2 linked regions of the Homo sapiens genome follow. The protein of the gene in region 2 purifies or fractionates together with the protein of the main gene of each other region. This does not show direct contact. Each region holds a gene or a part of one and is shown on either strand. Other genes may lie near its edges.

Evidence for each region.
Region 1: the proteins of ZNF496 (region 2) and TNFRSF13B purify together in Homo sapiens (co-immunoprecipitation; one large-scale study listed by IntAct). This does not show direct contact.

Annotation. Positions count from the first base shown.
Region 1 is NC_000017.11:16,948,050-16,951,866, reverse strand, and holds part of TNFRSF13B (tumor necrosis factor receptor superfamily member 13B), read left to right. Parts: intron 1-2,883; coding exon 2,884-3,129; intron 3,130-3,817. UniProt on the Homo sapiens protein: Receptor for TNFSF13/APRIL and TNFSF13B/TALL1/BAFF/BLYS that binds both ligands with similar high affinity. Mediates calcineurin-dependent activation of NF-AT, as well as activation of NF-kappa-B and AP-1.
Region 2 is NC_000001.11:247,321,851-247,325,667, reverse strand, and holds part of ZNF496 (zinc finger protein 496), read left to right. Parts: intron 1-2,437; coding exon 2,438-2,514; intron 2,515-3,817. UniProt on the Homo sapiens protein: DNA-binding transcription factor that can both act as an activator and a repressor.

The sequences.
Region 1 (3,817 bases), on a different chromosome or scaffold from region 2:
GCTCAGGCTGGAGTGCAATGGTGCGATCTTGGCTCACCGCAACCTCCACCGCCCGGGTTCAAGTGATTCTCCCTCCTCAGCCTCCCGAGTAGCTGGGATTACAGGCATGTGCCACCACACCCGGCTAATTTTGTATTTTTAGTAGAGATGGGGTTTCTCCATGTTGGTCAGGCTGGTCTTGAACTCCTGACCTTAGGTGATCCACCCACCTCGGCCTCCCAAAGTGCTGGGATTACAGGCGTGAGCCACTGCACCCAGCCTGCCTTGTGTATTTTAAAGCACAGCCAAGATCTCATATAATTTTACCTGCAGATACTGGACCACGAAAACCTGTGAAACATAATCCAAATATCCTATCACTGCCAGCAATAATTTATTAACATCATCTAATACTCAGGCAATATCCAGTTTTCCCTGATTGTCTTGAAAATTATTCGTTGCTTGCTGTTCTTTTTCATAACCTGTTCTTTTCCTTGATAGAACTTACCACAATTTGCTGTTTTGTTCTTTCATGTGTATGTGTTTTATGTCTGACTCAACCACTAGACTGGGAGCTCCCTGGCAGGGGAACCATGTCTGACTTGAGCCTAGCACAGTGCCTGACACATAGTAAGTCCTTCATGAATACTTATTGCGGGGAACTCAGAGAGGCTGAGTGACTCACCCAAGATCACCCAGTTTAAAAGTGGAGATGTCACAGCGACATCCTGGTTTGAACCCAGGACTCCGACTCCTAAATCATGACCTGAACCACTACCCATTAATGAATTAGAACATTCATTGGTTCATCCCACAAACATAGATGGAGTGCTCCAGCCCCATGGAAATAGGAATCTGCCGTGGCCCTTCAAAGACAGTGTCATCTAATGGGAGAAATGACTATGTGTCAAGGTAGAAAGCCACAGTTGGGAGAGACCCCCTTCAGCTAAAGGGCTGGGGAGCAGGGAGGTGTCCCTAGAGGAAGCACCATCAGAGGCAGATTGTTAAGAGGTCACAGAATGCGGAAATCAGATGGGCACCTGGAAGAAAGGGCACTATGAGCAGAGGCTCAGAGGAGGGAAACACAGTGGGGAGGACTGAGTCCCAGGCGGGGGAGGGGAGGGGTGTGAGGTCAGGCAGGGAGGGGTGTGAGGTCAGGCAGGGAGGGTCAGTGGGCTGGGGCACTCAGGCACCACCTGCAACAGCACCACCTGCAACAGGGGAGGAGGTCACAGAAAGCCCCAAGGACACCAATGCTGGGCTAACCCTGTGTGATGCAGAGTGGAGGTGTCAGTTTCTGTGCGGTTCAGGGGCGCCCTGGGGATAGGGCAGGGCCAGAGCAGGGGAGGTCACTGGCCCTATGTGGGCCATCTGAGTTTTCCCTAAGGTCCCAATTCCGTGATCTTTTAGTTCCTTCCTTTACTCTGTCAAAGACACAAGAACGGATCTGTTTGCTTTGTGAAGAGGCTCAAATGAATATTCTACTTAAGCTTTCCATTACGTGAGCATTTAGTATGTGCCAGGCACTGTGCTGGGCCCTACAACTCTGCCAACAACCCTACGAAGAAGTCAGTACTGTTATTTTCCCTATGTTGGAAATGAGGAAACTGAGGCACGGAGAGGCTAAGACCACACTGCCTGCAAGTGGTACAGCCAGGGATGGCCCCAACTGAAATTTGGTTCTGAAATTTGGGTTCTTATCCACTATCCTGCACTGTCTCCAAAATGTGTCCTTAAAATATATGTGTGAGCCACATATATTTTATTTATACATATTTATTTATTTATTTATTCATATTTACGAAGTCAGGACATCTCAAAAGCCATACCTTACTCTAAATACAAAGGAAACTTGCCTTTTTCACGTAAAAACTTCCATGTAGAAATATTCGGAGGCTAGACCAGATGCGGTGGTTCATGCCACCTGTAATCCCAGCACTTTGGGAGGCCGAGGCAGGCAGATCACCTGAGGTCAGGAGTTCACGACCAGCCTGGCCAACACGGCGAAAGTCCATCTCTACTAAAAATACAAAAATTAGCCGGGTGTTGTGGTGGTCGCCTGTAATCCCAGCTACTCGGGAGGCTGAGGCAGGAGAATTGCTTGAACCTGGGAGGCAGAGGTTGCAGTGAGCCGAGATCGTGCCATTGCACTCCAGCCTGGGTGACAGGAGCGAAACTCCTTCTCAAAAAAAAAAAAAAAATTAGAAATATTCTGAGACTTTAGATAAGATAATTGATTGTTCCAAATAGGTTTCTTTATGCATTCAAAGTTGGGTCCACTGTGCTCTCTTAAGGCAAGTGTGATTTGGCTTTAGTTTCCTTGGCTTCTGTGCCTTGGCACTGATACTTGTGTAAGCTGCTGTAATTCTCATCTAGTATTAAGACAGAAGAAACACTATTCATGTGAACTTTTCCACCTTCCTTCCAGCCCCCTCCCCCAGCTTGTCAAAGAGGATTCTGGCTTTTCCCCTTCTTTCCTTATGCTGATTTGAAATATATTTCTCCTTGATGAGGCTTGAAAAATGCAAGTAAAAGTCTTATGTAACAATGTAATCCAGATCTAAATTTTAAATGATAACTGAAAATCTTCATACGTTTGGAAACTAAGAAATGCACTTGTAAATAACCCATAGGTCAAAGAAAAGATAATAATGAAAAATAAGTGCATTTTGATCTAGGTAGAGGAAAAATACTACACATCAAAATGCAATGCAGCTAAAATAGTACTTAGAGGACAATGCATAGTCTTCAATGTGTATATTGTAAAAGTACTTGGCTTACTCTGGAATTGCCTTCTGGAATTTTACTGTATTTTTTTTTTTAACTTTGATGTCCTTTGTGGTCAAACCCAGAGTTCCTGCTAGTCTGTGTCACCCAGCAGTATCATGAATTTCTCTCTCCCAGGGTCACTCAGCTGCCGCAAGGAGCAAGGCAAGTTCTATGACCATCTCCTGAGGGACTGCATCAGCTGTGCCTCCATCTGTGGACAGCACCCTAAGCAATGTGCATACTTCTGTGAGAACAAGCTCAGGAGCCCAGTGAACCTTCCACCAGAGCTCAGGAGACAGCGGAGTGGAGAAGTTGAAAACAATTCAGACAACTCGGGAAGGTACCAAGGATTGGAGCACAGAGGCTCAGAAGCAAGTCCAGGTAAGCCACCCAAGGCAAACCTGCATGGTGTCACGCAGGGTGAGAAAGCGTGGGAGGCCTGATGCCAGGCCTAGAACAGGAGAGTCCACAATGCATGAAGCCCAGAGTCCAAGCAAATGGCCAGAAGCCAGGGAGATCATCCCAGGATAAAAAAAACAATGTAGGCAACATTTCCAGAAGTCTGTGGACAAGAAGAAAGCAGGAGAAAGGACCTGCCGTGTGAGGAAGAGCCTTGCACTAGAGGCTGCCGAGGCTGTGCCAGTCATTGAAGCACAGGCACAAGTAAGCAGCAGACCCACCTGTGTGAGCACCTGAGCAGCAGCCACCACCTGCCCTCCACCAGTGCTGCAGACTCCATTTATTTCTATTATTATTTTATTTATAATTTCAACTTTTTTTTTTAGATCCGGGGGTACATGTGTAGGGTTTGTTACATGGGTATGTTGCTTGATGCTAAGGTTTGAGGTACAAATGGTCTTGTCACCCAGGTGGTGAGCATAGCACCCAATAGGTAGTTTTTCAGCCCTTGCCCTCTCTCTCTGCCTCCCCCTTCTAGTAGGCCCCAGTGTCTGTTGTTCCTGTCTTTATGTCCATCTGTATTCGACACTTAGCATTTCACTTATAAGTGAGAACATGTGGTATTTTCTGTTTCTGCATTAATTCACTTAGGATAATGGCCTCCAGTTGC
Region 2 (3,817 bases):
ACACCCCCTCTGGGAGACATCGGTCAAAGAGTACAAAGTTTCCGTTAGGTAAGATGAATAAATTCTGGAGATCTATGGTACAGCATGGTGAGGTTGATGAAAAATAATGCATCTTATACTTGAAAATTGCTAAGAAAGTAAATAAGAAATGTTCTCGTCACAAAAATATATGAGGTATAGATTTGTTAATTAGCTTAATTTAATCATTTCACAATGTATAGTTATCACATTGTACAGTTTTCGTATACAAAATACATACAATTTTTGTCAATTATAGCTTAATAAAACTGGGAGGTAAAAGTAAGTTAAATAAAGATGAAGATAGAAACTTAAAATGGAACATACACACAGAAAAATACCACCTCCTCAAATCTACGCCCATCCAGCCTGAGCTTCCCCTTCAGACACAGTGAAGAGGCTGCCTTCCACTGAGACCCCTAGAATGGCACTGCCATCTGTGTGGGCTCCTGGCCCCGTCCTTTGTTCCACATAGCCACTCCTGCAGCTGCTGTTTCCTGCAGGCTTTGTATTCCAGGTCTGAAAGGCCAGGGACACTGGCCTCTGGGGTTTGCTTTGATAATGACTTAACATGTGACCTGGGGTTAACCAGTAGACTATAGCACAGCTCTCCAAGTCTTAATCTGAGAAAGGAGTACCTTTTGAAACAGAGCTCATTTTTACATGGCTGCACTGTTGGCAGGGGATGTGGCTCATGGCAGAAGCCTGAACAAAGGGTAGTTTCCAATTCCAGGAGAGAAGAGTGGCAGAGTCCCTGGTAGCCCAAAATAAGGCTGGTGAGATGGTCCCAAAGCCACACTTTACATTTTGTATGAGGGTCTTTAGGACACTGTGTCAAATGCTCTTTCAGGAGTACCTACAGTGGTAACAGTTTTTCTTTTTTGTTTAATTTCTGTCTTCAAATTGACAAAAAAAAATTGTATGTATTTACAGTGTACAGTGTAATGTTTTGATATCTATACACATTGTGAAATGATTAAACCAAGCTACTTAGCTGGGCATGGTGGCACACCTGTAGTCCCAGCTACTCAGGAGGCTGAGGTGGGAGGATCCCTTGAGCTCAGGAGTTCTGTTCCAGCCTAGGCAACCTAGTGAGACCAGTCTCTTAAAAAAAAAAAAAGTCAAGCTAATTAATATAATGCATTACCTCATATACCTATCCTTTTTCTGTGTGTGGTGAAAATACTTCAGATCTACCCTCTTAGCAATTTTCAAGTACACAGTACGTTGTTACTGCCTATAGTCACCATGTTGTGCAATAGGACTCCTGAGTTTACTCCTCTCATGTCACTGAAATTTTGTACACTTTGACCAATGTCTCCCCAGTCCCCTCATTCCCTAGCCTCTGGTAACCAGCATTCTGATCTCTGCTTCTATGAGTTCAACTTTTTTAGAGTCCACATTTAAGTGAGAACATGCAGTATTTCTTTTTGTGTCTGGCTTATTGCTCGTAGCATGTCTTTCAGGTTCATTCATGTCGTCAAAAATGACAGGATTTTCCTTCTTTTTTTATGGAGTTCCACAGTAATTCTGATTGCCAACAGCCCTTACTTTTTTTTTTTTTTTTTTTCATTTGAGACAGAGCCATGTTCTGTCACCCAGGCTGGAGTGCAGTGGTGCAGCTGTGGCTCACTGCAGCCTCCATCTCTCAGGCTCAAGCAATCCTTCTGTTTCAGCTTCCCAGTTTTTTTATTTTTAATAGAGATGCGGTCTCCCTATGTTGCCCAGACTGGTCTTGAACTCCTGAGCTTAAGCAATCCTCCCACTTTGGCTTCCCAAAGAGCTAGGATTACAGGCATGAGCCACCACATCCAGACCCTAAGAGTCCTTATAGATTCCTCAACTCTACGGCTTTTTCTTTTTCTTCTTCTTTTTTTTTTTCTTTTTCTTTTTAAGAAACAAATACTCTGTGTTGTCCCTGCTGGTCTGGAACTCCTGGGCTCAAGTGATTCTCCCACCTCAGTCCCCAAAATAAGAATAGCTGAGATTACAGGCATGTACCACCACACACGGCTGAACTCCATAGAGTTTTAACCTTTATTTTCCCATAGTTTGGATAACAATGCTGAGGTCCGGGGACCTACCCGAGGTGAAAGAGTTCATTTAATTGACCGTGCTATCATGAACCCAGGCACACTCTGTTACAGCCCCCCTTGTTATATCTGGAAACAAAGTCGCAGCAATCTTTGTGGTTTACAGAGTACTTTTCATGTGCGTCATTTTGTAATCCTCATTTTACAGTTAAGAACAGAGACTGGGGTTTTATGAAAAGCACCATGAAACAGTTCCCTGTTGGTGCCTCTCTTGTGATTTTCTTTGCTACCAAAATGGAAATGAAGAGCCGCAGGAAGCTCAGAAGGTATCAGCACCAGGCCTGGCCCTGGCCCACTTTAGGACACCATTTTCTGATCTCTTTCAGTTCTGCAAGATGCTTTCCTTCTTCAGGAAGAGAATGTGCGGGACACACAGCAGGTGACCACCCTCCAGCTACCCCCGGTGAGTGGTTTCTACAGGAGTCCTTGAAAATCCCCTGTTTGCCTCTGTAGGCTACAGGGCAGCTTTCTTAGGACCCCAGCCAGCTTTCTGACTGCCACACAGGATGTTCAGTCCCAGCCCAGAAAAGCTAAAATAGGCAGAGCGTGAGCTTAAGAGACGCCCCATTTCTCCTCCTTCCCTGTGGTCCCAGCCGCCCACTGGGTCTACTGTCATCAGGCCACCTTCAGGAAGCTTTGTGCAGACGATAGCAGGAAACAAAGGCCCATGAGTCCCCATTGATGGGCCTCTCAGCATGTCTAAGTTCCCCTCTTGTGAAAAAGGAGATCTCTCTGCTCTTTTATTTTACAGAGAATTTTTCAATTTAATAATCATCGCAGCAATGGTTATATTTTAGAAATGTTAGGAAGTGGAGGGAAGAAAGCACAGATAATTTCAGTCCTGTCACAGATCTACGTGGTGAGTCATTCCAGAATTTCCTCGAATGTTCTCGTTCGTGTTTTTGTGTAAGACTTGCTTACTCGGGTGCTCTGAGGAGTCAGAGTCAGGGCTGGGGGCTGGTCCAGCAGGTGATCTTACTCGCCTCTCTCTAGCCCAGTTGCTGTCTTTGGCCATGTTTTCTGGCCATATCTCCTTCACTTTCCCTCCTAACACTTTCCACTGGCTGGCACAAGATTTAGTTATGACAGCATCATCCCCTCCCATGGGAACAGGATGTGTGGCTCCTGCTTTTGTTTAGTTGCTCCTTACCCAACAGAAAACTGTGAAAAACAGTAGACACTCTTATTACCATGTCTCAGCAGAATGTCGGAAGCTGAGCAGTTTGCTTTCTGCACAGTTCATTTGACATGACTTTATTTTATTTTTATTTTTAGAGACAGGGTCTTGCCTTGTCACCCAGGCTTCAATGCAGTGGCACAGTCGTAGTTCACTGCAGCCTCAAACTCCTGAGCTCAAGCCATCCTCCCACCTCGGTCTCCTGAGCAGCTGGGACTACAGGTGCATGCCACTACACCCAGCTAAGTTTTGTATTTCCTTGTAGAGACAGGGTCTCGCCATGTTGCCCAGGCTGGTCTCAAACTCCTGACCTCAAGTGATCCTCCTGTCTCAGCCTCCCAAAGTGCTGGGATTACAGGCATGAGCCACTGTGCCCAGCCAACATGACTTTAAACTTGGAGAAGGGAGGGCTAGGGATGGGAAGGAGTTAGCCAGGTTACCCAGTTAGGGGGCATCTCCATAACTTGCTTTTGCCCCACCAGAAATGTGGCACACGCCTGTTTACCCTGATGCTCAACACATACATGTC